Linked DNA regions of Homo sapiens. The protein of the gene in region 1 interacts with the protein of each later gene in a biochemical or structural test. Each region holds a gene or a part of one and is shown in the gene's direction. Other genes may lie near its edges.

Region 1 (7,478 bases):
TTGGCATTGTAATGATTATTATAATTATGATGAGGTGGGTCATCTCACATTGGTATTGAGAAATAATTAGCTATAGTACTACATTTAAAGGAAACACAGCAGTAAATAAACAATAACACTTGCCCTTGAGGAGTTTGTTATCTTTTAAAGAAGGCAAAATGTATATCAAAAACAGCTAAATGTCCATTATTTTTAAATGTTACAAGACGATAGTTTTAAATACTATAAATATTATTTAATGAACCGAATAATATGGTCTGTGGTTTATTTATGTTTTCAAGATAAGGGAACTGAGACCTAAAGAGGGAGGTTAATAGATTGACCCCTAGCATCCTAAGCCAATTAAAGGAGTCTGTGGGGATTTTTCATAGGTCTTCCTAATGCTTCAGGATGTTCTTTTAACCCGTGTGCTATCCTGCTTCCATGAGGAATGTGGTGAATATTAAAAGACATATATAGTAAATGCCACTGGTGCCCTGAATAAGGAAGATCAGGCTTTTGCAGTAGCTGATAGCCAGAAGCTTCTTGGGGGAGGTCACATTTGAAGTGGGCCATGGAGGTAGGCAGGATTTCAATAGGAAGAGGAGAAGGAGGGAGGTCATGAATAAAAGCAAGAAGTTGTGTGCAGCAGTTTTTTGTGATTTTTTTTTTTCTGGGAGCATTTAGTTTAAAAGAGTACACATGGAGATTAATGAAGAAAATGCTGGAATGTAGGTTTGTGCTAGATGAAAGGGATCTTGGAGTCTTTCCTCACCAGCCGACAGTGTGAGACTTAAAGGATTTGAGTGGTGTGACATAGCTCTGTATTAATAAGGCTCATTTTGCAGAACTATGTAGGGCCTTTTGGAGGTGATGGCGTGGATCAAGACTCCAGTTGGGGGCTATTATGAGACTCTAGAAAAGATGTGATGAGAGCGTGACTTCAAGCAGTGAGAGAAAGAATGGAAAGTAAAGGGCAGTGAGAGACGCTGAAGAGGTGGGACAGCAGGTGCAGTGAGAAGACGGCATGCAGACAGACAGACTAGAGGATGCAGCCTGGGTCTCACGGGGAACAGTGGCTTCAATAAGACAAATGGTGTCACTAGTGTCTCCACCCCCTCCCTGCCAAAAAGAGGGCAAATAATTGTCTTCATAGACCCAGTGGAGCATTTTGGCCAGGACCACCCAAGTCTAGGGCTCTGAGCCATAGCCCCGAGTGGGTCTTCACTCTGGTCTATAGAGCAGCTTAGATTTTTTTCCATTGCTATACCTTGAGTGCTAACACATCGCCTCCTATTTTTATTAAGAGGGTCACTGTGGAGGGAGTGTGAGTGTGTACATGCTGTCAGAGCTGAGTCTTTTCAATAAACTCATGGGACTCTTTCAATTCCAATCAAGCAAGTGTCCTGCTCAAGTCTCTCTGTTTCCCAGGATGGATGTCAAAGGGAGAATGCAATTTTGGTTTGCAGGTCACTGACGAATATATGAAAGGGAAATCTCGTGGGTAACTAACTCTGTTTTTCCCAAATATTGCTCTATAGCATTAAGTTTTTTGTTGTAAGTGAAAGAAAATATATACCATTCACTGAAGGGCTGCGAGGGGTAAATCGGTTGAGAAATGTTGCTATCACCATTTAAGGGCTTCGAGTGATGCTCACTTTCTCTTCTCCCTTCCAATTTCCTTGGTCAGTGTTTGTCAGGTTCAACTCCAGCCATGGTTTCCCAGTGGAGGTCGATTCTGACACCAGCATCTTCCAGCTCAAGGAGGTGGTTGCTAAGCGACAGGGGGTTCCGGCTGACCAGTTGCGTGTGATTTTCGCAGGGAAGGAGCTGAGGAATGACTGGACTGTGCAGGTGAGTCTCCCTTGGCGGCCGTTCTTGGGATGCCGCCAGCTCCATTGCTCATGCCGCCTGCGCTGCCAATCTGACATTCATGCCTGAGATCTAATAGAATAAATAGTGCCTGGGGATTCCTTGAACTTTACTCCACACTGCTTCATTAATTCTGACCTTCTTAATTATGCATTAAAACAGCAAGCAGGAAAGATTGGAAGAACAACTGCGAGTGAGAAAGAGAGAGAGAAAGAACACACGAGCTAGGCTTAGTGAATAAATGTCTACTGACTACAGGAGCAGCAAGGCACAATTTCTGTGTCTGTTCAATTTCTACCTTACTTATTCCATTTGAATCTTAACGAAGAAGGATTCGAATAAATTGTTCCCAATCAGGCTGCTCAGTCCCTGCACTGTGAGGAATTTGTAACCCAATTGTGACCCCTGGAGGTTAGTGAGGGCTGCTGCTATGCTGCGCTAGAGGAGGTGTGGGCTCCGGGGCCCATTGGCAACTAGCTTTGGGCACTCCTTGGCCAGGACCAGAATCGCACAGTTCTGCAGCTGATGGGGAAGGAAGCCTGGAGCACAACAACAGTATACCTTTGCATGAATTTCTCCAAGGTTCAGTAACATTGTCCCTGGAAATAGGCCCCTGCAACGTAATAAGTGTGAACGATGCTCTCTTCTCTCCTGGCCCCAGCAGAGCTTCTGGCAGCCCACTGCTCCTAGCCCCATGAAAGCCCTACACACATGTCATTCGGATTGGTGATTTTTGTAGGAATTAGGGGGACTGGTGAGGTGACTGATAATACCACCATCACCTAGAACTAGAGACCCGTCCTTTGTTGGGGAAACTCGCAAATACAACTCAACATTTGTTGACGCTATTCTTTGTGAATGCAAGAAAGACGAAACGCTTTCTGGGAATGGTCCCTGTGACTGTGAAGGACCCTGCAGATGTATGTTCCCCTTTTCTTAACCAGCATCAATTAATTGCACTCAGGTTTACAGCTGTGTGGGTATCACTGCTCCGCGCAGGGGGGCTCCTGGGTCAGAGTACACAAAGTCCGTCCTTGTATCTGCATCCTTTCCCTGTCTCTTGTGGGTAACGATATTTATGGCTTTGTAAAATGCTCTCAGAATTTGGGTATACAAAGAAGCTACAGAAATGCAAATTGTTCCTGTCATTCTGCATTGCATCTCCTGCTGATGGTGTTGAGGCACATACTCGTTGTGCACAAACTGCTGGCCTCTGCTTTCAGGCAATTTGGTTTTATAAGGGAAGTGCATGTGCTAAAAAGGGTTTTGATTTTTTTTTTTTCTATTTCAGTCAACTAAAAAGATTTTCACTGTATCTGCCAACCTCTAAATCCAAGGATGTTTCCTTCACAAATAAATAATTTTAAAACAGCTCCTTGAATCAAAACATTTTATATTGCCAAAACCTTCAGGTTCTAAACTGCCATTTGTGCTGATTCATAAAACAATTAGCGATTTCATATGTAGTTAGACTAATTGCTTCAGATGATTGACTTTGCAAACATATATGCCTAAGACATGTGTTGATTTATGAGTCTATTTTGACAAACACTTCTTAAGCACTTCCAATGTCCTAGGCTTCTCAGGGGATCCAAAAGAGAGACCTAACTCAGCCCCTGTTTTCATGGAGACTGCTCTTTATTTATGAGCCCTAAAACCGAGAGAAATATTAGATTGAACCATATGGGATTGCCATTTTTACAGGTTCAACAATTTCATGTTGTTCAACCTAATAGCTATAATATAAGAATATGAAACATAACTGCCGTATCGCACCTGAAAATATTATGAAGTTTTAAAGGTGGAGAAAACACATCTGGTTGGAAGTCACCAGGAAGAACTTCTTGGATGAATTGAGTTGAGGTAGGATTCTGTAGATGGAGGAATAGGGGAATGAGCATAGAGAATGCTTGCCAAAAAGGATGGGTTCTTGTTCTTCTAGAACCTGAAGAGAGATGTTGAAGATTGGACAAAAAATAAAATATGGGCTATATTTCACATAACCTTGACTAACTTGGCATTGAAGTTTCATTGGTGGGGAACTAGAGAAAAATGTCATGCCATAGAAGGAAATGGGAAGTCTGAAGACCCGGTTTGGTTGGGGGAAGGATGCTGCATTGTTCCAACATGATGGGAGTTGATGCCAGCTGAGTACGTGTGTTTGGAGATGCCTAGCTGGCTGTTGAGAACTTGTGTCTGAGGACACTGAAAAAGAAAGGTTCATACTTATGGAACTTCTATTAAATCACAGTTAAATGATTTAGGTGCCGAGAAGTTGGCAAACTTTGTTCATAGAAGAGTTTCACTGTAAAGACTAGGAAGTTACACATGTAATTGCAAATTGATGGCTATGTTTTCTTTAAGTGTACAACTGGCAGAATTTTAGCATCCTAGATATTCTTGTATAATCTTAGAACATATGTTTACAACTATTTAGTCAATATCATTTAGTTACCCATTATCATTACAGGTGCTATATTTCACAGTATAAGCACAAAATATCTAATAATAAGTTGCTGCTGAGAAAAAGAAGATGGACCTTCCATATGAGCTACTTAATGCTTCCATTAATGAATGTTAAATATACACCTTGGTGTCCTGAAGAGAAGAAGAGATGGCTGGGGTGGTGTCTATGCTTGCTGGGTGTCTTCCTCCTGGTTTCGTATTCTTTATCATAGGTGATATGAACATATATATTAGCTTATCATGCAAAATGAGATATTGTGAGTATAAAAGAAGACCCTGTCAATAATTATTCCAGGACAAAATTATATGTTGGGAGTGTCCTAGGAAAACTGAGGCAATGGTCACCCCACATACTGAGCAGTATCTCTCACACTTAGTTTCACCTTCTTTGAGGAGGAAATTAGTTTTAGTGCCTCACCTCAGGTACTTTGGGGAACTATAGCTTGAGACCACAGTCTTATGAAATGTCATAATTTTAAAAAGCGAGTTTGTCTATTTAACTGGCAAAGGGTATTTGTAAGATTATAATAGAATTGATGTCACATCTAAAAAATTTTCATAGAATTTTCAGTTCTGGGAGAGCATATCCACAGGCCACTTAGAGAAGCACTGTTAGAGTATAGTTATTTTCATTACACACTCATCTGTTCAGTTTTGTTATTGGCAAGACTTTAAGAACTTTAAAAAATTAAAGGAAAATGGAAAAAATATAGACATTGAAAACGAATGATCTGGCACAGATTTTGCTTCTGGGAAGCTGGAGTAGGCATACTTTTCCCTCTTCCTCCCAGCAACTACACTAAAAAGCCTAGACATTGCATATTGTACAGTTGACTCGTGGAGTCATGGAGTTAGGGGTGCCAACCGCTATGTAGACAAAACTCATGTATACTTTTATCTCCCCTCACACTTTACCAGTAGTCTGCTATTGACGGGAAGCCTTACTGATACCATGAACAGTTGATTAATACATATTTTTCATATGTAATATGTACTGTATGCTTATAATAAAAAAACTAGAGAAAACATTAACAGCATTACAAAAAGGAGAGAGGATACTTACTATTCATTAAGTAGAAGTGGATCATCAAGATTTTCATTGTCTTTGTCTTCATGTTGAGTAGGCTAAAGAGGAAGAGGAAGAGGGGGAGTTAGTCTCACTGTCTCAGGGGTGGCAGAGGCAGAAGAAAATCTGCATATAAATGGACCCATGCAGTTTCAACCCATGTTATTCAAGGGTCCGCTGTACAAGCTTAGGAAGATTCTGAAAGTAGTGAGAAGAATGTGGACAGAGTAGGGATTTTAGAACCCAAGGAAGAATCCAGAGGTGAATTTCTTGAGTTTTCTTTTTGCTACGTTACCTCAGATGTGGAACTGAAGAAGCTGGCAACCAGGAAATGTCAACATATATAGACAAAAAGAAAAGAGAAGAAAAAAGAAGCAGAGAGGAAGGGAGGGGCAGAGAGAGAGAGAGAGAGAGAGAGAAGGGAGGGGTAAAGGAAGGGGGAAGGGAAGGGAAAAGGAAGAAAGGAAGGAAGGAAGAAATCCCCAACAATGGCCTGTTTTTTATCCAGAGGACTCAGAAAGGGGCTGCCTAGCAACATAGAAAACATTTAGACAATAACCAGTCTACTCCAGCCAAATGCAACAGAAAAACTGCGGCCCTATCCTTGTCCCCACCAACACTAGTAAAGGCTGAGTGGAGAGCCTCTTGTTTGAAATTTCTGAAATAAAACACTCACTGATGGGTTTGACATAAGAATGGAAGGAACAGAGAAAAGAGTCAGTGAACTGGAAGTTGGAACATAGAAATGACACGGTCCAAATGGCAAAGAAAAGGTAGGCTGGAAAAAGAAAAAAGGAATAGAGCCTCAGAGACCTGTGGTTCTCCAACAGAGCATTTAAAGTTTGTGTCAGGGGATTCCTGGAAGGAGAAGATAATGGTGGGCAAATGCTCAAAGAAATAAGTGTTGGAAACTTCCAAAGTTTGCAAGAGACATAAAGTTATAGATGGATTTATAAAGCTGAGTGAATCTAAAACAGGAAAAACCCAAAGAAACCCACACCAACACACAACGTAATTCAACTTCTTAAAACTAAAGACAAATTTTAGATCTTGAAAGAAGCCAGAGAAATATCACACCTTCCCTATAGGGCTAACATTGTTCTAATTACAGTGGATTTCTCATCAGAAACCATGAAGGCTAGAAGGAAGTGGCACAATGTTTTTCAAATGCTGAAAGAAAAGAACTGCCAACCTGTAATATTATACCCAGTGAAAATGTCGTTCAGGAAGAAAGAACAAATCAATACTTTTTTTTTTAGATAAAGAAAAACTAAGCGAATTTGTCACCAGCAGACCTACCCTAAAAGAATGGCTAAAGAAATTTTCTAAACAAATGAAACAACAAAAAAAGGAATTTTGGAACACTAGGAAGGAGGGAAAAACATAGTAAGCAAAAATATGGTTAAATACAATGCACTGTTTTTCTCCTCTTGAGTTTTCTAAATTATGTTAGAGGGTTGCAGCAAAAGTTATAGCATTGTCTAATGTAGTTCTACATGTAGAAGAAACATTTCAGGCAAACATAAACACAGATGCAAGGAAAGGTAAGATTTCTAAACTTGACCTACAAAATAGCAACTGCAGTAGAGCATGACAAGTTAAGAATGTATAAAGAAATATCTAGAGTAATAGGTAAAGTAGGTAAATTAAAATACAAAATAAAGACAACACCAAATGCTGGTGAGGATGTGGAGAAATTGGATTACTCGCAAATTGCTACTGGGAATATAAAATGGTAGAACCACTCTGGAAAAGAATATAGCAGTTTCATAAAAAATGACATATGTATTTACCAGATGACAGAGTTATACTCTTAGTTATTTATCCTAGAGAAATGAAGACGTAGGTACACACACAAATCTGTATATGAATGTTTATAGCAGTTTTATTCACATTAGCAGAACACGGAAACAACTCTGATGTCTTTCAGTGGATCTGTGGTTCAACAAACTGGTACCTCCACACCCTAGAATATTACTCAGCAGTAAAAAAGGAGCCGACTGTTGATATACAAAATATCTTGGATGGATCTCAGGGGAAATGTGCTGTGTGGAAAAAGCCCATCCCCAAAGATCGTACACTGAATAATTTTATT
Region 2 (7,478 bases), on another chromosome or scaffold:
GCTCACCATCAGGAGGCCAGTACTTTATTAAGTCTGGTGTCTCTGGAAACATTCTGGGCTCTGTACCGCTGCTCACCTGCTCCTTAAGGTCCCTGTCTTGGCCTGTGTGCCCCCACCTTGCCAGTTCCTCGCCTCTCTTGTTTCCCACCCTGTCATCCTTTCTCCATGCCACAGCACTCTCTTTAGAGGAGGAGAACCTCACGATGCTGCAGCCATTCTGTATGCTCCAGGTGTTACTCTTAAGCTGCTCCTCTGTCCCAGAAGCTGTGGCTCTCAGAGGGTCGACATATACAGACAAGACATATGGGGCCCCTGCTCTCCTTGTGCTCAGAGATGGATGGGCACACAGGAGCACCCACTGTAGAAGCAGGTCCCCAAGACTACAGGGACAAGTCAAATAGGTGTACAAATGTTAGTATAAATGAAAGTTATTAAGCGCAGTACATTCCAATGAAAAGGTATGATTAGACACTCTGAAAGTATACCCTGAAGACAGCAGCATAAGAATTGCCAACATGATTTGATTTCCAGGGCTCCCTCTCAATGAGAATCTCTGGGGGACGGGCCTGGATATCTGCATTTTAACAAGCTTCCTTAAAAGACCACTGTAGGGCCACTTAGAATGACAAGAGCCTGGCTGGATACCAGTAGAAGTTGATCTTCTGGATAGTTTGCTTTACCCAGGGCTTTCTTACAGTATAGGCATGAAAATGTTTTGGCCATCAAGTAGCATTTTGCCTGGCAAGGTATATCTATTTAATGGTTTAAAACTTACATAAAACATGTACGCTCAAGTTCTGTAATTTATCTACTGGATGCAAATTATGTGCTTAAATGTATTGATTAAACTTTTCTTTTTCCACAGAACTCAACAAAAATCCAGTGGAAGGCTTTTCTGCAGGTTTAATAGATGACAATGATCTCTACCGATGGGAAGTCCTTATTATTGGCCCTCCAGATACACTTTAGTAAGTATAATGGAACTGACATCTTCAAAATGGAGCTCTTTTAATACACTGAATTAAAAACTATTTTGGCAGGCTGGGCACGGTGGCTCACACCTGTAATCCCAGCACTTTGGGAGGCCAAGGCGGGCCGATCATGAGGTCAGGAGTTCGAGACCAGCCTGGCCAATGTAGTGAAACCCCATCTCTACTAAAAATACAAAAATTAGCTGGGTGTGGTGGCATGCACCTGTAGTCCCAGCTACTCAGGAGGCTGAGGCAGGAGAATCACTTGAACTCAGGAGGCAGAGATTGCAGTGAGCTGAGACCACGCCATTGCACTCCAGCCTGGGTGACAGAGTGAGACTCCATCTCAAAACAAAACAAAGCAAAACCACAAATATTTTGGCAAACTGACATGAAATTATTTTTTAAGGAGCAGGAGAAATGGCTGTATTCAATATCCTTTGTACTGAATTTGATCATGGAAGAGTTTTTGTGTTTTGCTTGAAGCTCTAATGTCTAAGACCTATTGCTATTAAAAATAATAGTTTCAGGCCGGGCGCGGTGGCTCATGCCTGCAATCCCAGCACTTTAGGAGGCTGAGGTGGGTGGATCACCTGAGAGGTCAGGAGTTTGATACCAGCTTGGCCAACATGGTGAAACCCCATCTCTACTAAGAATACGAAAATTAGCTGGGCATGGTGGCATGCCTGTAATCCCAGCTACCCGGGAGGCTGAGGCAGGAGAATCACTTGAACTCAGGAGGCAGAAGAGTTATATAATTTTTGGACATTTTAATTGAGAATGTATTACACACATCAGTGTTTTAAGAAGGCTAAGGAGAACTTTCAAGATCGTCTCTTTTCATGGTTCTCTACTTGAGTCCCCACCGAATACTGGTTAGAATCTAGGTGTTCTTATCCCAAACTAAACTAATGGTCACTTTCTCCTAGTTTATTGAAAGTTATTGTTATGCTCTATGATAATCTATTAACTGACTATTAATTGTTAAACCAATGGCTTAAGGATAGACAACAATGTAGTGGTGTGAAAGAGCAGTAGAAGAAGAGAAATAGAGTTTAAAAATATTTCATGTCGTACATTTCTAGATGCAAAGACCACAGTCTTCTTTTCTGCTCTGAGTGTTTGCAGACTAACTTAAATTTACTAGTATGTATTGTTTTGTAAGATGCATCTGCTGGCTTGGTGCGTTGGCTCACGCCTGTAATCCCAGCACTTTGGGAGGCTGAGGCGTGTGGATCACCTGTGGTCAGGAGTTCAAGACCAGCCTGGCCAACATGGTGAAACCCTGTCTCTACTAAAAATACAAAAATTAGCTGGGCATGGTGGCGGGCGCCTGTAGTCCCAGCTGCTCAGGAGGCTGAGGCAGGAGAATCGCTTGAATCCGGGAGGTGGAGGTTGCAGTGAGCCAAAATTACGCTACTGCACTCCAGCCTGGTGACAGAGCGAGACTCCGTCTCAAAAAAGAAAACAAAACCGTCTCTGGTCTTTGGTGTACATTTTTAAAAGTGTTGGCTGTTGAATTGAGATGTGAATCACAGCAATATTTCTGGCAGCTCTGCTGGAGTGTGTATATGCTGCTGAGAATACTGGTGGTCACTTCTGGACTGTGCCTTCCTGAGATCACTAGCCTTTGCTCAGGAAAGAGAGAGCATATTCCTAGGGCAGGACCTGAGAAAGGCAAAGGAAGGTACAGGGGAATGAAGAAAGGTTTGTTAGAAGTAAGCCTTTTAGAATGCTACCAAGAACCATGTACTTCATAGAATGCTTAAAAAATATTTGTTGTCGGCCGGGCGTAGTGGCTCACGAGGCCGAGGTGGGCAGGATCACCTGAGGTCGAGAGTTGGAGACCAGCCTGACCAACATGGAGAAACCCTGTCTCTACTAAAAATACAAAAAATTTAGCCAGGTGAGGTGGCATATGCCTGTAATCCCAGCTACTCGGGAGGCTGAGGCAGGAGAATCGCTTGAATCCAGGAGGCAGAGGTTGCAGTGAGCCGGGATCGTGTCACCCACTCCAGCCTGGGCAACAAGAGCAGAACTCTATCTAAAAAAAAAAAAAAAAAAGTTCTTAAAAAACTTCTTAGCAGAAAGTAGTGAGGTTCTTGTAATTATTTCAGTGGAATGGAGAGAGTAGAGGCCATCTTGGAATTGTTTGAAGAGCACTATTGGAAGTGAATATATACACCTTACGTTTAAATAACTGCCTGTGAAGGGAAGTAGAGGCTTGTGCTGGGGGGAGGGGTGTTATAGGATTGAAAATAAATTAGTATAGGCTCAGATGGTACCCAGACCTAAGTGATTAATTCACCACTTTATAATTAGATAATAGAAATACTGTACCAAAATTCTGTAAAAGCTGCTGTGATTATCTCTCTGTGCCATCATTAGCCCTCATGTAGTCACTAGAGGGCGCTCCACTCTCTTTTCAGTCTATGTGATTGATAACCGGTACCGTTCAAGGATTACTTTGAGACTCCTATAGTTGCCACAAGTCTTAATTCAGTCATACTCATATTTATATAGCATTACATTTTTATTTTTATTAATGAGTCTTTCCAGTGCAGTAGTCCCTAAGGCCTTTCTATGAAATGTACATTCTGAAACTGGTGTGGTATACCAACTGTTTTCAGACTGATTATCAAACAGTATGGATAACCACTCATATCCACAGAAATTAAAATTTCAGGTAGAAGTGGCAATAGGTTTGTAGTACGGAAGTTTAGGGTGGATACAGTGGCTCACGTCTATAATCCCTACACTTTGGGAGGCCAAGGGTGGATCGCTTGAGCTCAGACGTTGGAGACCAGCTTCGGCTACATGGCAAAACCCTGTCTCTACAAAAAAAAATACAAAAATAAGTCAAGCATGGTGATGCATGCCTGCAGTCAGGAGGCTGAGCCCAGGAGGTGGAGGCTGCAGTGAGCCAAGATTACGCTACTGCACTCTAGCTTGGGCAACAGAGCTAGACCCTGTCTTAAACAAACAAACAAAACCAGAAAGTCTAAGAAACCTGGATATCACTGTATCATTATAACATTTTATAAATTATTAATGAATGATGACTGTATAACTTTTATCTCTCTTTTCCTTTCATCACCAGTGGCTGGTCTGTTCAAGGAGTATGTCTTATTTATTTATTTTGTTTTTAAGCACTGGCAATGATATGAAAAATCTGGAGAATCTTAAGATTATGTGTTTTGTAGTATTGCCTTGGGTAGATATAGAAAATGAAGAATCAGTTAACCAAAACTCTGAATTACATTCTTTTACAGTTGCAAAATTCTATTCCAGTTATAAATTATTTTCCAGTCCTGTGTGAGACATAGAGGCAGAAGCCATCTCTTCTGTAATGAAGTTCTGGAGGGAATGAACCTAGTGCCTACATTGCTTGGAAATGGAATGATCAGTGGTAATGCCATGCGGTTTATCACGTAGTGTTCAAGAACATGGACTTTGGGGACTGCCTTTGGTTAGCTCTCTAACTCTACCACTCTTCTTAGTTGAGTGACTTTGAACAATTACTTAAATTTGGTCTTAGCAGTTTCATTTCTAGGGTAAAAACCCTATGCTTAGGAAATGTTTCAAATGTTCCATGTTCTATTGCTTATAATAGCAAAAAAAAAATTATTTTTTCCCCTTTTGCAGTTTTATTATTTATTTTTGTAAATGTCAATTATAATTCGAAGGACACTTTGTAGTTACTAATTAGACTATATGAAAAACTGTACAGACTGTTTGTACTATAATTTGTGTCCCTAAGAGATTAGGGGACTCAGTAACAGAAAAATCAACTCAGAAGGGTCACTGCTCAGCAGTCCACATAACCACATAGTAGAGCCCAAGCTACTGGTTGTGAGTAGAAAGAGACTTCATACAAATATCTTCACATGTCTTCTAGCATTATGCCCCTACCAGGAAAGGGAATGTCTGTCACAATTTTTTTTTTTTCTGCTGTAAGATAAAGAAAAGGCTGTATCCCTTAGACACATACTTAATGAAGACAATCTCAAAAGAAGCTCCTGTGTTTTTCTGTTTTCACTGTTCTTTTCTGAAGTTCACCTGGATGTTCCAGAGCAGTTTTCTAAACCTTTCATTGTTGGTTGGCCTTTTGTAGAATTCTTCAGCAACACACAATACAGAAGACACAGGCTAAAATAGTTCTCACAAATACACTTTGAAATAGGTGTATTTGGATATAAATACAACTTGCCATTCCATTATTTTTTTTCTCATGACTAAACTCTAAATTTTTAAAAATGGAGATTTTCAAACCAGTGATGTGCAAAAGCCCATTCTCATGACACAGTCATTTAAACTTATTAAGTATGGGAAAATTTTATTTCTTCCCTTTGTCTTGTGGAATAATTTAGGTTCTCACCCTGGGCATGATTCACAAAATAGAGTAAGACCACAGATAAAAGTCACATAGAATCACAGGCAATGAAGAAAACTTCTAAAAACAAATATCCCCCAGTGTCCAGTATCATCCATCCCAGCAGTGATGGAAATGATGGCCACCCCAAGATTCTGAATGGAGTGCGTGAAGCCATATGCAGTTCCCAGTTGATGTTCAGGAACTACAGATGCCACTGTTGGCCAAAATGCACAGGCAAGCGATGAATAGGAGATTCCCAGAAGACACAGCAACCCAAGGGCTCCACATCATAAAGGCCAGCATCATGTGGGACACAAGAGTGGCTGCAACCACACGCAGAACCCAGATGCTGTTCTTCCCCGTGTCATCCACTGGGAGCCCAAATACTGGGGTGTGGGAGCTGATAACGACATATACAACACTGTTCATTGCACTTGCTGCCTGGAAAGAAAATCCAAATTTGTCTGTAAAGAAAACTTTCCCAAGTCCAATAAAAGGGAACATGGCAACACAATAGCAGACACAGATGATAAATATGAGCCACAGGGGTAAGGAGAAATCCTTTACATCAGTTAATGTAAAAACTTCCCCCCCCTTTTTTTGTTGTTGTTGTTCTTTATGAAGGATTCTCTCTGCTCTCGCATCTAAGTAAGCAAGAGCCAAGGAAGGCACAGATTAGTGAAAGAATACATTTTATACCCCCAATCTTAAGTGTGACCCCAGGGGTTGTGTGACCAGCAGAACCCCACGAAGCTTCAATCTTAGAATACAGCCAACTCACGAAGTTCATGTTTACCGTACTTCCAATTCTAGCCATGCTAAATTGTTGGAGTCCAGACACCAGGTTTAATTCTTTGTCTTTAAACCAGCTGACAGCATATGTCCTGGGCAACTGCTGAGCACTCCCCACCAATCCAAACACAAGTCTTTCAAATTCCATCAGCCAAAAAACATTAAATATTCCACCCAGAACAAAACAACCTGTCCAGTGCAAATAAAACAGCTAAAAGTAATTGTGCCCCATCATATTCCAAATACTCGGTCTTTTAAAAAGCCACCAAAGAAACACAAAACTACATTGGGCCAAGAATACCAGGCATATAGCAGCATGAATTTCATGGTGTTCACCTGCCTGTTCCGTTTATCCTGAGTCTGAAGGGCAGCAGGATTATTATAGCAAAAATAGCTGCTGAAGCCAAGGAAACACATCAATAACAGCATCAAAAGTCATAGCCAGGTGACTGGAGGCCACAGAAGGGCCAGCAGCACCCATGCTTTCTCATCCTTCTCCTCCATTGCGCCCGTGGGAGGCTGAGAGGCAAAAGGGGTGACAACTCCAGGACCTGGCAGAAAAGCAGTGCCCACGGAGCACAGCCAAGTCAGTGATCACATGACTATGTGATTCTGACTATCATAGAATAATAGTGAACTGTGGCGGATAGAATGAATGGACAAGAGACAGCTACAACAGGACTATAGATTAATAGAACAATGTTGAGCAAATTGCAGACGGCAGCATACAGCACATTATTTACATAAAATAAATATGGCAGTATGGTAGGATTTGATCCTTGTAAGATTTTTATAATTTAACTCAAAAACAGTAATGGAGGCCTCATGGAAAAAAATTGAACTAGGCCTGGGTTTTTAAACACTTTCAAATGTGAAACTGCTGGTTACATATCTCTCTCTCTCTTTTTTTTTTGTTTGAAAACAGAGTCTGACTCTGTTGCTCACTGCAACCTCCGCCGCCTGGGTTCAAGTGATTCTCCTACCTCAGCTTCCTGAGTAGCTGGGATTATGGGCACCTGTCACCATGCCTGGCTAATTTTTGTAGTTTTTAGTAGAGATGGGATTTCACCATCTCGGCCATGCTGGTCTTGAACTCCTGACCTCATGATCTACCCGCCTCAGCCTCCCAAAGTGCTGGGATTACAGGTGTGAGCCACCGTGCCCGGCCTACATACCTCTTTTTAATATCATGATAGTACTTATACTATAGCATCTGTGATGAAGATAATATGTAATGAAAGATATTTTGAATTAATTGGTGCCTTTTTAAATTTTATTTTATTTATTTATTTATTATTATTATTTTTGGAGACAGAGTCTTGCTTTGTGGCCCAGGCTGG
Region 3 (7,000 bases), on another chromosome or scaffold:
TCTATGCCAACTACTGTACTAGACTTGGAATAATGGAGAAAATTCAGGCACAGTCCTTGCTCTTAGGGAGCTCACATGATTACTCATTGATGAATATCTCTCTCCCCTGATAGACTGCAAATCCATGAGGACAGGGACTCTGTCTTGTTCTGTGCCATAGTTCCACAGCATTCCAGCATGATGTCTGGTACTCAGCATGCAAACAGTGCGTATTGGTTGAATGAATAATAGTACAGCTAATAGCAGCTGAGAGCTTCCTCTGTGCTAGACACGATTCTAGGTGCCTTCCACACTTTGACAACCTTATGCAGCGTGTTAACACTGCATTCCCCTTGCACCCTGGAGATTGAGCCCAGAGAAGATAAGGACAGAGGGGACACATTCCAAGATAGATCCCCCAGTGGATGCCTGAAGCCACAGATAGTAACAAACCCTATATATACTGTGTTTTTTCCTATACACACATACCTATGGTAAAGTTTAATTTATAAATTAGGCACAGTAAAAAATTAAAGATAACTAATAAAATAGAATAATTATGACAATATACTGTAATAAAAGTTATGTGAATGTGGTCTCTCTCTCTCTCCTCTCTCTAAATATCTTCTTGTACTCACCTATTCTCAAACTGTAGATAACTGAAATTGCAGAAAGCAAAACTGTGGATAAGGTTGGGGCTACTGCAACTCAGCCAAGGACTTACAGTGGCAGACCTGGAATGCAAACCCAGGCAGTCTGATACCAGGGTTTCTCCACCTGTGTTCTGCCACATGGGATGGATAGGATGGATGGGTGTACGGATGGACGGACGGACAGACGGATGGACAAATGGATTGAAGGATGGGTAGGGGAGTCATCAGATGTGTTCTCCAACACCATGTACAGTACCTGGCACATAGCAAATCTATGATAAACATTTGATAGTAAGTGAATAATGAATGTCAGTGCCAGTGTTGGTGTGGCCTTAGGTTATTCTTTCCAGGTGTTGTATCTGATGCTGGCCTCATATGTTTGTCTCACTTGGCTGACTAGAAAATCCAAGAGAGGTCCCAAGCAACTAGCCCCTCACCCCAACATCATCCGGGTTCTCCGCGCCTTCACCTCTTCCGTGCCGCTGCTGCCAGGGGCCCTGGTCGACTACCCTGATGTGCTGCCCTCACGCCTCCACCCTGAAGGCCTGGGCCATGGCCGGACGCTGTTCCTCGTTATGAAGAAGTAAGTGACAGCAGCGCGGCAGGGCCTGGAGCTGATACATCTCCCAAGGGGAGCTGGTTCCTGCCCTCCATGTGCACCTTGATCAGGGGGTTTTGGAGAACAGGGTCATCACCCTTCCGGAGAAGAAAGCCATGCAAAGGGAACATATCTGCCCTGGAGAGCATTTTCCCTGTAGGACGATTTTTCATGGAAACAAACTCTCATCTTCATCCAGAACATACTTGTCACCTAGTCCTTTTGGTCCATTTGACTGTTAACCTTTTCTGTGGCTGGACTTATCTGTTTTTAACATAAAAACCGTTCTCCTTCCTCACCCTCTGTATCCCCTAACTTTGCTATAGTGGGTATTTTATTTTAAGGAAATAATTATCTGCACCATTACTTTGAATATAGGGAGCCCCAACTCTTACTTCCTAATTTGAGGATGGTGAGTGGGAGGGAACAGAAAGGATGCTGGGGAAAAGTGGGAATCAAAGTGCTCCTGGAAGGGGAAGAGGAACGGCCTAACCCTAACAGTGATTAAGGTTATTAGGAGGCCGGGAATGGTGGCTGACGCCTGTAATCCCAGCACTTTGGAAGGCGGAGGTGGGTAGATCACTTGAGGTCAGGAGTTTGAGACCAGCCTGGCCAACATGATGAAACCCTGTATCTACTAAACATACAAAAATTAGCCTGGTGTGGTGGCGGGCACCTATAATCCCAGCTACTCGGGAGGCTGAGGTAGGAGAATTGCTTGAACCTGGAAGGTGGAGGTTGCAGTGAGCCAAGATCGTGCTACTGCACTCCAGCTTGGCGACAGAGTGAGACTCCATCTCAAAAAAAAAAAAAAAAACGTATTGGGAGTCGTCGATGTGTGGTAGCCAGAGGCCCTCTCCCCTCTCCGCCAGCTATCCCTGTACCCTGCGCCAGTACCTTTGTGTGAACACACCCAGCCCCCGCCTCGCCGCCATGATGCTGCTGCAGCTGCTGGAAGGCGTGGACCATCTGGTTCAACAGGGCATCGCGCACAGAGACCTGAAATCCGACAACATCCTTGTGGAGCTGGACCCAGGTAGGAACCTGCTGCACCATCAGAGCTCTCCAGGGGCACTAGAGGGTGGGTCAGGAGCATTTAGGACTGACTCTTCAGGTCCTCTCTGGTTTTGTGTTCTAAGTCATGTCTTTATTTAGCTCCGCACACAAGAGGTTAGCAATCTCTCCCTTAGAACGGGGTTTTTTTTTCTCTCTTTGCAGAGAGACAGCACTTCCCAAGTTCCTTTCTCTAGCCCACTTAAAGAACAAGGACCTCAGTGCTGCAAGTTTTCCTAGGTAAATAAAGAGGCCCGGCACAGTGGCTGACACCTGTAATCCCAACACTTTGGGAGGCTTGCTTGAGGATTGCTTGAGGCCAGCAGTTTGAGACCAGCCTGGGAAACAGAGTGAGATCCCTTCTCTACAAAAAAAAAATATGTTTTAAATTAGCCGGAAAAAAAGTTAGCCAGGCATGGTGGCATGCACCTGTAGCCCCAGCTACTTGGGAGGCTGAGGTCGGAGGATCACTTGAGCCTAGGAGTTAAGAGTCTGCAATGAGCTATGAATGTGCCACTGTACTCCAGCCTGGGCAGCAGAGTGAGATCCTATCTCAAAAAAATAATAAAAAATAATAAAGTAAAAGAGAAGTAGACTTTAGCTCATTATAAAAAATAACTTTCGGCCGGGGGTAGTGGCTCACGCCTGTAATCCCAGCACTTTGAGAGGCTGAGGCGGGCAGATCATGAGGTCAAGAGATCGAGACCATCCTGGCCAACATGGTGAAACCCCATCTCTACTAAAAATACAAAAATTAGCTGGGCATGGTGGCGGGCGCCTGTAATCTCAGCTACTTGGGAAGCTGAGGCAGGAGAATTGCTTGAACCCGGGAGGCGGAGGTTGTAGTGAGCCGAGATTGTGCCACTGCATTCCAGCCTGGCGACAGAGTGAGAGTCCATCTCAAAATAAATTAATTAATTAATTAAATTTTTCAAACAATGAAAGCTGTCCAAATGTAAGCCCAGTTGCCTCTGGAAATGAGTTGCCTACCACTGGAAGCATTCAAGTAGAAGCTGAATGGCCACTTGCCTAGGAAAATTGTAAGGAGATTCATACATCTGATAAATTTTTGAACTAGAAGATTTAAAATAATTGACTAGAGGAACTGGCTTTTATTATTTCTTTATTTATTTACTTATTTATTTATTTATTTATTTGAGACAGAATCTTGCTTTGTTGCCCAGGCTGGAGTGCAGTGGCGCCATCTCAGCTCACTGCAACCTCTGCTTCCCAGGTTCAAGCAATTCTCGTGCCTCCGCCTCCTGAGTAGCTAGGATTACAGGCAGGTGCCACCACGCCTAGCTAATTTTTGATTTTTTTTTTTTTTTTTTTTTGAGACTGAGTCTCGCTCTGTCACCCAGGCTGGAGTGCAATGGCATGATCTCGGCTCACTGCAAGCTCTACCTCCCAGGTTCACACCATTCTCCTGCTTCAGCCTCCCGAGTAGCTGGGACTACAGGCGCCCACCACCACGCCCGGCTAATTTTTTTGTATTTTTAGTACAGACGGGGTTTCACCATGTTAGCCAGGATGGTCTCTATCTCCTGACTTCGTGATCCACCTGCTTCGGCCTCCCAAAGCGCTGGGATTATTATTTTTAGTGGAGATGGGGTTTCACTGTTGGCCAGGCTGGTCTCAAACTCCTGGCCTCAAGTGATCCACCCACCTCAGCCTCCAAAATGTTGGGATTACAGGTATGAGCCACCACGCCCAGCTGGGAGTTGGCTTTTTTTTTTTTTTTTTTTTTTGAGACGGAGTCTCACTCTGTCGCCCAGGCTGGAGTGCAGTGGCATGATCTTGGCTCACTGCAACCCCTGCCTATCGGGTTCAAGCAATTCTCCCGCCTCAGCCTCCTGAGTAGCTGGGATTACAGGCACACGCCACTACACCTGGCTGATTTTTGTATTTTTAGTAGAGACGGGGTTTCACCATGTTGGTCAGGCTGATCTGGAACTCCTGACTTCGTGATCCGCCTGCCTCGGCCTCCCAAAGTTCTGGGATTACAGGCGTGAGCCACTGCGCCCAGCCAGGAACTGGCTTTTTAAAGGAATTTTGTGTGGACCCTTTTACAAATAACCAATTCTTTTTTTATTTTTTCTGAGACAGAGTCTCGCTGTGTTGCTCAGGCTGAAGTGATTCTCCTGTCTCAGCCTCCTTCACCTCCCAGGTTCAAGTAATTCTCCTGTCTCAGCCTCCCGAGTAGCTGGGATACAGGCACACACCACCATGCCTGGCTAGTTTTTTTGTATTTTTAGTAGAGACAGGGGTTTCACCATGTTGGCCAGGCTGGTCTTGAACTCCTGACCTCAGGTGATCTACCCGCCTCGGCCTCCCAAAATGTTGGCATTACAGGCCACCACACCCGGCAATAACTGATTCTTAATGCACCTGGTTCTTAGGTTTGGATTTGGGGTTTCAAATTCAAATCAAAGTCTCCTGGGGTATAAGGGCCCTTGGAGATCATTTGAACCAAGCTCTAGCTCCTTTGGTCTTGGGGACAGCTCCAATTACTAGAACATGATTTAAATTGAGCCACACAGTCCTTTGCCTGGGGATTTTGCAGCCTGTACTTACTGGAGGCATTTCCGTGTTCGCACAGCAGGCCCTTCTGATCAGCTCTCAGGCCTTGCTGACCTCCTGGGCCAACACTGAGCCATTAGCCCCTGTCAGCTATGTCTTGCTGGTGGCTTTAGTAGGGACATAGGAGGGCCTCTCAGAGGGAAGGAGGGGAGGAGAAATGGTCACTTTGCTTGCTCCTTCCCAGACGGCTGCCCCTGGCTGGTGATCGCAGATTTTGGCTGCTGCCTGGCTGATGAGAGCATCGGCCTGCAGTTGCCCTTCAGCAGCTGGTACGTGGATCGGGGCGGAAACGGCTGTCTGATGGCCCCAGAGGTGAGTCCCGAGTGTGTCATGCGCCATCGGCAGCCCTTCCCCCACATGTCCACTGAATGCAGGAGACTCGATGCCTTGTGATAACCCAACACCTCCATCTTTTCTGACCCATAATTTGGCACAAGTTCCTTCCCTGCCACTTTGCTTTCCTCCGGCGTTCCCTCATGTTCCAGGAGAATGCAAGTCCTGTCACATAAACCAGGTGGTCTAAGCAGACCCCTTCTGGGTCTGAGCCACAGCTCACTCAAGCTCTGGGTTCCTTGGGACAGAGTTCAGATTAGCCCATGGATCAGGTGATGTGCAGGACATGAAAAGGTTAGATGGGCGGGCAGCGTGATGTCTCACCCACTGCTTCTGAGCAGGTGTCCACGGCCCGTCCTGGCCCCAGGGCAGTGATTGACTACAGCAAGGCTGATGCCTGGGCAGTGGGAGCCATCGCCTATGAAATCTTCGGGCTTGTCAATCCCTTCTACGGCCAGGGCAAGGCCCACCTTGAAAGCCGCAGCTACCAAGAGGCTCAGCTACCTGCACTGCCCGAGTCAGTGCCTCCAGACGTGAGACAGTTGGTGAGGGCACTGCTCCAGCGAGAGGCCAGCAAGGTGAGGCTGTCCCCGGCTTCGAGGGGACGGTGTGGGTAGAAACCTCTGTTCTCGTTCCAGAGTGAAGGTCAGGTTTGGGCCAGAGCCACAGTGACAGATCCTCTGTGTTAGGAAGGTAAAGGCTAGTTACAAGAGAACAAAAAACAGATTTTAATGTAGGTAGGAGTAGGAGCACTAGCCACCACAGCATAGTCAGAATCCTAGCAGTTCAACTCCTGTGGCTTTTTTAGTTGCTGAAAAAGTTGTTCAGAGGCCAGACACGGTGGCTTACACCTATAATCACAGCACTTTGGGAGGCTGAGGCGGGTGGATCACTTGGGACCAGGAGTTCCAGTCCAGCCTGGCCAACATGGTAAAACCCCGTCTGTACTAAAAATACAAAAATTAGCTGAGTGTCGTGGCACACGCCTGTAATTCCAGGTACTCGGGAGGCTGAAGCAGGAGAATCGTTTGAACCCTGGAGGCAGAGGTTGCAGTGAGCCAAGATCGCGCCACTGCACTCTGGCCTAGGTGACAGTGCAAGTCTTTGTCTCAAAAAAAAAAAAAAAAAAAAAAGGCTATTCAGAGAGAGAAAAGGAGGCATTTTTGAGAAATGTTTAATGGAGATGTAGCTCATGGAAGCAGCTGAGAACTGATCAGAGAGAGATGGAAAACATCTCCTGAGAGCAGATCTGGACATTGTGAAATTAATATAAAGGAATGCAAAGGCAGACCTATCCGAAGCCATAATTGGAGTGGCAGCTGGCTCAGGGGCAGGCTTAGTGCAAAGAGCTGAGCCATACCTGCACCCCAGCACTGTTCTGCCACTCCGTTAACTGCTCTCTGTACGTGGCCTGCTATCTTGGTGCGCAGTGAAGGTTAGAACAACAGCTGCAACCAGTTATGAAATGATAGAGGAGACTACTTACCTGGTTCAAGGGACCAGATAGCTGTGCACAAGAGGCACTAGGCTTTCCACCCAGGGGGAAAGGCTATTTCAACAATGCATGCTGCCCCATGCAGAGGTGTACACATGGAAAAGCTTGGAGCACGGGCAGGGGACAGGCAGTATTTGTCACCTGAGTGAAGGGCATCAGTAGGAGATAGGGTAGAGGAAGAATTGGGTTGGGACCAGAGAAGGGAAGACCCTCACTAACAAAGCAGGCTTTGGGTTGAGACTGTGTTAACAGATGTTCTAGCTACAGCTTCCCTTCCTGTTGCAGAGACCATCTGCCCGAGTAGCCGCA
Region 4 (7,368 bases), on another chromosome or scaffold:
GGAGTGACTCTATCAACAGATCTCTACTACATTAACATTCTTTGTCCTAAACCTGAAAGACTCCCACTTGCCTATTCAGACCTAAGTATCACTGATTGACAAACCGAATGAAAGTCTCTTTATCGTGCCTCACCCTACACCAAAAGCAGTATTACAAATATATATTTTTTTAACCTGTGTTTGTAAGTAAACCAGCTTTTTGGAAGACAGAATGCACTATTGTGGTCATTTCACATAAACAGAATCAAACAGTATGTGGCCTTTTGTGTCTGGCTCTTTCACTTGACAGAATGTTTTAAGGCTTCAAGATACATTTTGTAACATGTATTAGTACTTTGTTCCTTATAATAATAATAATATTCCATTATACACATATATCACATCTTCTTTATCCATTCATCAGCTGATGGACATTTGAGTTGTTTCTACTAAAAAGTAGAATAGCCCTACTCTGAACATTTGTGTATATATATGTTTTTGTGTGGAAAAATGCTCTATTTTTATCTCAAAGATTTGTGCATGCTTCATTACATGCCAAAAGCCTTATTAAGGCCAAAATGACATCTTAGCATGAAATAAAGTACACTTTCTTAAACCATATTAATTTGACTTAATGAGATTCTGAATTGTTAAGTATAGAAATCAATTTGATTTTTGTGCAAACAATGTAAAATAACATTTGGTTGACCTGGGCTCCAAATTACTTGGTCCAGGCAGAATATGTAAATGAGCATTCTGAATATAAAATCTGGACCGTAGCATTTACAATTTAATTAAACTAATAAAATGGTATACACTGTACTAGAGCCAGTGTCTTTGGCAAGTTATAATATTCTGTAACAAAATTAAAGATACATGAAAACATAGATACAATATTAAGTACATATATATAAAATCTGTTAATTATGTTTATTCATCAATACATTCTAATTAACCCCTTACTCTCAAGTTATTATAATAACGTGGCCTCACTGAAAAATTCATGTAATAAGACCCTGGCACACCACCATTATTCAGATTGGTAGATTAATTGCCCATTTACTAGTAATTTTCTCTGAGACAGGGTCTTGCTCCATCACAGGCTTGAGTATAGTGGCACAATCACAGCTCACTGCAGCCTCAACCTCCCAGGCTGAGGCAATCCTCCCACCTCAGCCTCCCAAGTAGCTGGGACCATAGGCGTGTACCACCATGCTCAGCTAATTGTTTTATTATTTTTGTAGAGACTGGGTCACCCTATGTTATCCAGGCTGGTCTCAAACTCCTGGGCTCAAGTGATCGTTCCACCTTGGCCTCACAAAGTGCTGGGATTACAGGCGTAAGCCACCAGCCCAGCTTTAATTTTCTTGATCCTTTCTATTTTCTCATGTTTTATGTCAATTCATGCAAGATAATCTGATCTACTATATTTACAAAGTTTTTAGGACTTCAAAATAGTATTTATTAAGGAAGGGATTATTTTTAGTTAATTAAATTTTCAACATTTTTGTACCTTTATTAATTTCTAAATGTAAATTTTTCTTTCAGTATTTACAGCCATAATTTTTTTCTTGTTAGCATTATTTCCGACTGCAATATAAAAAACATGATTATTTTCCTTTCTTGTTTCAAATGAGGACATCTCTACCATTGTAATTCAAGTAAGTTAAATGAATGAAAATGTTTTAACTTTATTTGCAACTGTAAAGTGGGCTCTCTGTAACAACAGGTACATGAATAATGTTTTAAAATTTAACTTAATCTTAGCCTGCTTTATCCTAAGGCATCAAAATGCTTCTAGGCTATGTTTCTTTTGATTTTAACCATGGCAAAATATAAGCAGAAATGTAAGTCCACTTATGCAAATACAAACTTGTAAACAGAAAGCCCAATCAACCAATGAATTTACTTCACTGCCTAACAATAATGAGTTTGTGATTACACAATCACTTGCCTTTATAAGCATGGATAATCTAGAACTCCATATATATTAGTTTTGTTTTTTGTTCTTGTTTTTTTTTGAGACAGGGTCTCACTCTGTCGCAGTGATCTTGGCCCACCGCAACCTCCGCCTTCCAGGCTCAAGCGATTCTCCGGCCTCAGCCTCCCAAGCAGCTGGGATTACAGGCGCCCGCCACTACGCCCAGCTAATTTTTTGTATTTTTAGTAGAGATGGGGTTTCACTGTTTTGGCCAGGCTGGTCTCGAACTCCTGATCTCATATGATCCACCCGTCTCAGCCTCCCAAAGTGCTGGGATTACAGGCGTGGCCACTATTACTACTATACATTTGTTTCACACTATGGCCAGTTAATGTCTGACTGGTTACTTTAATAACTGACATTTATACAGCACTGTAGAGTCTCCAGTGTCCTTTCACATATATTATGACACTTTAACCACACAATCACCCTGTGAGAAAGGACAGTCATTATTACTTACTTTAGCGGTGAAGAAACGGGGTTAGAAGATAACTAACCAGGCCAATATCAAGCAAATGGGAAGCAATAACTAATCTGGGTTCCTCCCTCCATCTTCATGCCTAGTCCTGTGCTTTTAGTATATCTGGCTAGCTATGAGAGAGAACACAGATTATTCAGGGAGGAGGGAGGGGCCAGAGGTGTTACTGAGGTGAGCCTCATGAGCAGTTAGGCCATGAGGTAAGCACTTCAGTGCTTTGCTACTCACGGGGTGGTTCAGACGAGAAAAATCTGTATCACCTGGGAGCTAGTTAGAAATGTAGGCTCTCAGGCTCCACCACTGCCCTACCAAATCAAAGTCGCATTTTCAACAAAACCCCAGGTGGTTCCTATGGACACTAGTTTGAGAAGCACTGCTTCACTAGTGACACTACATGGTCACTTGAACAGTATACATTAGACTACTTATATTCATCATTGTTGACGTGTTAAGTTTTTATTAGGTAAAACTTTCTGCAACAGTTTTCAAATTAAGTGTATTTTTAAAACAAGTTTATTTTTCCAAGTAATTGAAGATCTCCACTTCGGTAACTGGGGTCATTAAGGAATGTTAAAAAACCTTAAGCTGGTCAGTGCTTACCCACTTTTAAATTCCTCATAAAAATTAAGGTCTTTCTTTTGCCTGAAGGATACACTAGAGAGCATAACTGCCGTCTCCATACTTTAAACCCTTGACTAAAACAGGCCAATCCTACTGAGGTAAATCCCACCTCCCAACTTGGATATTTCAGGAAGTATTGTATTGTTTTTCTGACTCTAAACTCTACCTAATTAACTAATTAGTCTCAACACTTTCTGGCTCAAGAACTGAAACACAGCAACAGAAGCTAAAGTTTGAGAATTTAAGCTTGTTCCCACATCTACACCTTGGCGGACGGCAGCGACTGATTACGGAGACCAGTGAAAACCCTGCCCCTAACTCTCTCTGTCCTAGCCCCATCCACTCAATTGAGCTTGACTCAGCCTGCTCCCTGCTGTTCTCAGTATTGCTCCCTTAGGGTCAGACGTGCACTAGACTTCAGCACGTGGGAGCGCTGATGAGCGGCCAACCTGGGTCTATTTAAAACTACTATTCCCATCTCGAGGGGCGCCTCCTCCCACAGCATAACCAGCCCAGGAGGGCAGGCGAGTAAATACTGCTCACCTGCTCCACCGGAAACCTCAAAATCCCGGCCCGAGCTAGACTAAAGGTATCTGGTAATTAATCCTTGGCACCTCCCACCACACGCTCCTGATTGGGCGCGTGAGACAAGGCTGTGTCTGCGCGCGCTCTTACCAGTCTGGGGAATTCCATTTCCTCTACCAACCACCGGCATAAGCATTCAGGGGCGTTGCTTTCCTGGCAGTGGCCCGCCCCAGTTCGAGCCGGTGCCTTACTGCGTCTCGCGAGAACTTATGCATTTTGGAGGCGGAACCCCGTCAGGAAAAGCGCACAAAACTGCTCTTAAGTCATTGCAGAGCTACCGCTTCGGTTAGCCAGCCACGAAGTTCTCGCGAGAGTCGTCTCCTCGATACCAAGTGAGGAAACTGGGGGACGCTGTGGGGAGGGGCGTGGGGCTGGATCGCGCAGCGGCTGCTTCCTTTACCTTCCTCCCATGGTCTCCTTCCGGTTCTCGATGCTTCTCTGAGCCTAAGGGTTTCCGCCACTCGTTCACCCTCCCCCCAGCTCATGATCCTCCTCCCTCCCCCGCCCTCCTGGTCCAATCTCCGATCTGTTTAGTAAGAAGGTGCTGTTCCGAGAAGAAGGAAAAGGGCTTGACACGTATTCACTCGGCCCCGGACGTGGGAAGCAAGCCGTCTGGCTTCGGCCTCACATCGGTCTTGTGCTCGGGACGGCGGCGTTGGCGGACTGATCCGCGGCGGTGAAGAGGCAGGAGGAGGGGGAGGGGCGGAGCGTGGCAGCTGGCAGTAGTTCCGTCAGAGCGGACATCTTGTGGCTGTGTCGTGCGCGTGAGCCCCGTAGGGCCGGGGAGGCACCAGCTGCCGCGCGGGGAGGAGGCCGAGGCCGCAGCTTGAGGGAGGCCCCGGCCCCTCTGTACGCGTGGGTGTGGACGGCTAGGGCAGGGAAGGGAGGCCGGCCCAGTGGCCGGCCGGGTAAGAGGGGCAGTGCGGGACCTGGGCGGCTTGAGCGGCCAGCCTATTGGGTGCGGTGGGTTAGGGTGGGAAGGTTGGGGAAGCCGCGGCCTCTCCTGCTGGAGGAGGAGGGGGAATGGGCGCGTCCTCGCGCCTAAGCCGGAGCCTCAGGGACAGCGCGGGCGCGTGGTGGAGGTGGCTGGGCGGGCGCGCGCGGGAGCGCGCTGGAAGGCGGAGTGAGTGTACGGTGGCGTCAGGGGTGACACAGAATAGCTCGCTGCGAGGATAGCAATACACATCAAGTCTCCCTTCCTTTATTTCCTTCCTTTTCCCGGCCGCACCTTTGGACAGAAACCGAAAGCAGCCCGGCGTCCGTCCGGAGTCTTATGCTTCCCCCTCCCCCCTTGCCTTTCTTTGCCCTAGTGACGCCGGTATAGCGCCGACTAGGCCCCGGCTCCTCCTCTGCTGGGCTCCGGACCCTGCCCCGCACCCACCCCTTTCTCCTACGCCTCTTCCTCTCCCACCCGGGTCTCTTCCTTTCTAGAGGCCGGGAAGTTAAACTTGTAGCCACCACCTCCGCTCTTCCCGTCACCCTCGCCCCCACTTCGGGCCGAAAGCACGGTACAGAGGCTGTTGGTGGCTTTGCCACGCCACCCCACCCACCCCGGATCGCGGCTGTCTTAAGGGACCTGGATTCATCAGGGGCTCTTCGGGGCCTGTGCGAGTGCTGATCTGCTCCGTTTTTGCAAAAGGCGCCTGTGTCTGGCAGAGCTGGTGTGAGACGAGACAATCCTGCCCCGCCGCCGGGATAATCAAGAGTTTTGGCCGGACCTTTGAGCATACACCGAGAGAGTGAGGAGCCAGACGACAAGCACACACTATGGCGCTGAAACGGATTAATAAGGTAACCCGCGGGGACAAGGGCATGGGGTGGTAGGAGAAAAGGAAGGCTCGGGCCAAGAGGAAAGCGTGGGGGTGGGAAGGAAGCATAATTCTGAAAATACCTCTTGGATCACTTCTTCCATGGGGGGATGGAGAACGCAGATATACTTCTTGAAGAAATGAAGTTTAAAGCTAGGAAACGGAGAACACTTGTGGCAAGTGAGGTGTTATCCTGAGTGCTTCAGTGGAATCGGTGCAAATTAGGGGTGGAGGAGAGTGACTTAAGGCGCCTTTATTATTTTATTTTTTTGCTGCTTAAGAAGGAGTTTTTTTGGGGGTCCGAATTGCGGAGAGACGCTCCAGCAGATGTCATGGCGCTTCCTATTCTTGGTGCTTGAAAACTTAGTTTAGTTGTGAGATCAAGGTTATCTAGGCCTTCTAGGGGTAAGAAAGAAAACTCGGAGGAGAGAAAAAAAATCTGGCGAGTCCCGAACTTGACTGAGGGTCGGGTAGAAGAAGTCTTGCGTATTGAAGGTCAGTCAGTGAGTCTAGTAGAAACTCTTAGTCGACTCTGGGCAGGTTACACCGAATAAGTGGGTTTGGGAGGAGATGGAATGACACAGTGTTGCCACTTCCTGTATTTTGTAGTTGCAGCTTTTCACCCGAAGCTATTTATCCGAGGGACACCGGGAACTGATGTAAAAGGCATTCTGGAAGCTCCCTTTTCCTTTTGGCTGGAGAGTGGGGGTGGATAAGGGGTGCGATGGCAGTAAGGGAAAGCTAATGTACCTATTTTTGCCTCATTCTATTTAATAACACCCTTGTTTCGTTACTTGAAATGTGGTTTGATAGTATATTATCGATTTAAGTTGAAAAAAAACTAGGATTTTTCGGAGCTCTGGGAGTGAGCGGAACCTCCACCTCCGGTGGTTTAGTCTCATTTTCTTGCTCTAACTTCTATCCCGCATTTTAAGATGGCGGCTGCTTTAACTGGTTCAGGCTCTTTCCGGCATCTCCTTTCGTAATAATGTGAATTAATATGATTTGTTAAATGTTAACTTTTATATCGCGTTGTGCACTGCTCTAAGATCCTCTGCTCAAAACTTACCTAAATTCAAACTCTTAAACTGTATTTCCCTTTTTTGTGACTTGTATTTGTGTGATGTGTTTGGTTGTTGCACAATCGAAGAGGGTGGAGTGTTTACAGCTAACTTGAAAAAAATGTCATGGAATAAATTCAGCCTTACTAGAAAAATTGTGGAGTGTCGGTGAGTGTTAGAAACTTTGGTTTTAATAGATTACTTTTTTAAAAAGAGTTCTGAGAGGAATGGCAAGAATTTGCCTTTACTAAAATAGACCTGATACTACATTTGCCTGTATTTAATTATGACTGGAGTTTATTTGGCAAGATTGGTGTTTCATGAAAGAGGAAGGTTTAAATCTTCACTCTTAGTATGTATTGATATGAAATCGTGAATTTTGTTTTGGGCCTTCATAACATCGTCATTTTGGGTTATGCGAAATACAAATTTAAATCTTTGTGAAATGAAAGAAAAGAGGAAGAAACGCTTTTTAGGAGTTAAGGATTAAAGTAAAAATTATTTTGAAATAATTACCTCTTTTTGTGACCACTTTAAAGGCCAGGAACATATTGGAGAAGCCTAGTTGTATGTTACAGTGTGGTTTACACAAAGAGCATAACATTCAGTACAAATAAAAATCTTTTCTGTTGGAATTAGTTCAGGCCACTAAAATGTGGAATAGTACCAGATCCATAGCTTTTTGTGCATGTGGAACAGAACACGTTAAAGGAAGGCCTCTGATTTTTTTTCTCTTACAGGTCATACCCAGCTGCTGTGACACCACTTAAATGATTTAAAAGCTTTAGAGAGACAATATAACAGTGGTTAAGAGTGTAAACATTGGAGCAGAAATGCTCCAGTTAGAATTCTAGC

The links.
Region 2: the proteins of PRKN (region 1) and UBE2G1 form a complex in vitro, tested with the Homo sapiens proteins (5 studies listed by BioGRID).
Region 3: of the proteins of PRKN (region 1) and PINK1, one has a biochemical effect on the other in vitro, tested with the Homo sapiens proteins (12 studies listed by BioGRID, with this or other methods).
Region 4: the proteins of PRKN (region 1) and UBE2D3 form a complex in vitro, tested with the Homo sapiens proteins (4 studies listed by BioGRID, with this or other methods).

Annotation. Positions count from the first base shown.
Region 1 is NC_000006.12:162,437,665-162,445,142, reverse strand, and holds part of PRKN (E3 ubiquitin-protein ligase parkin), read left to right. Parts: intron 1-1,669; coding exon 1,670-1,833; intron 1,834-7,478. UniProt on the Homo sapiens protein: Functions within a multiprotein E3 ubiquitin ligase complex, catalyzing the covalent attachment of ubiquitin moieties onto substrate proteins. Substrates include SYT11 and VDAC1.
Region 2 is NC_000017.11:4,300,511-4,307,988, reverse strand, and holds part of UBE2G1 (ubiquitin-conjugating enzyme E2 G1), read left to right. Parts: intron 1-865; coding exon 866-968; intron 969-7,478. UniProt on the Homo sapiens protein: Accepts ubiquitin from the E1 complex and catalyzes its covalent attachment to other proteins. In vitro catalyzes 'Lys-48'-, as well as 'Lys-63'-linked polyubiquitination. May be involved in degradation of muscle-specific proteins.
Region 3 is NC_000001.11:20,643,458-20,650,457, forward strand, and holds part of PINK1 (serine/threonine-protein kinase PINK1, mitochondrial precursor), read left to right. Parts: intron 1-1,032; coding exon 1,033-1,215; intron 1,216-2,102; coding exon 2,103-2,266; intron 2,267-4,857; exon of another isoform or gene 4,858-5,047; coding exon 5,048-5,175; exon of another isoform or gene 5,176-5,537; coding exon 5,538-5,774; exon of another isoform or gene 5,775-6,976; coding exon 6,977-7,000. UniProt on the Homo sapiens protein: Serine/threonine-protein kinase which acts as a sensor of mitochondrial damage and protects against mitochondrial dysfunction during cellular stress.
Region 4 is NC_000004.12:102,824,552-102,831,919, reverse strand, and holds the start of UBE2D3 (ubiquitin-conjugating enzyme E2 D3), read left to right. Parts: upstream 1-4,368; 5' UTR 4,369-4,493; intron 4,494-5,061; exon of another isoform or gene 5,062-5,283; 5' UTR 5,284-5,411; coding exon 5,412-5,435; intron 5,436-6,057; exon of another isoform or gene 6,058-6,182; intron 6,183-6,602; exon of another isoform or gene 6,603-6,681; intron 6,682-7,368. UniProt on the Homo sapiens protein: Accepts ubiquitin from the E1 complex and catalyzes its covalent attachment to other proteins. In vitro catalyzes 'Lys-11'-, as well as 'Lys-48'-linked polyubiquitination.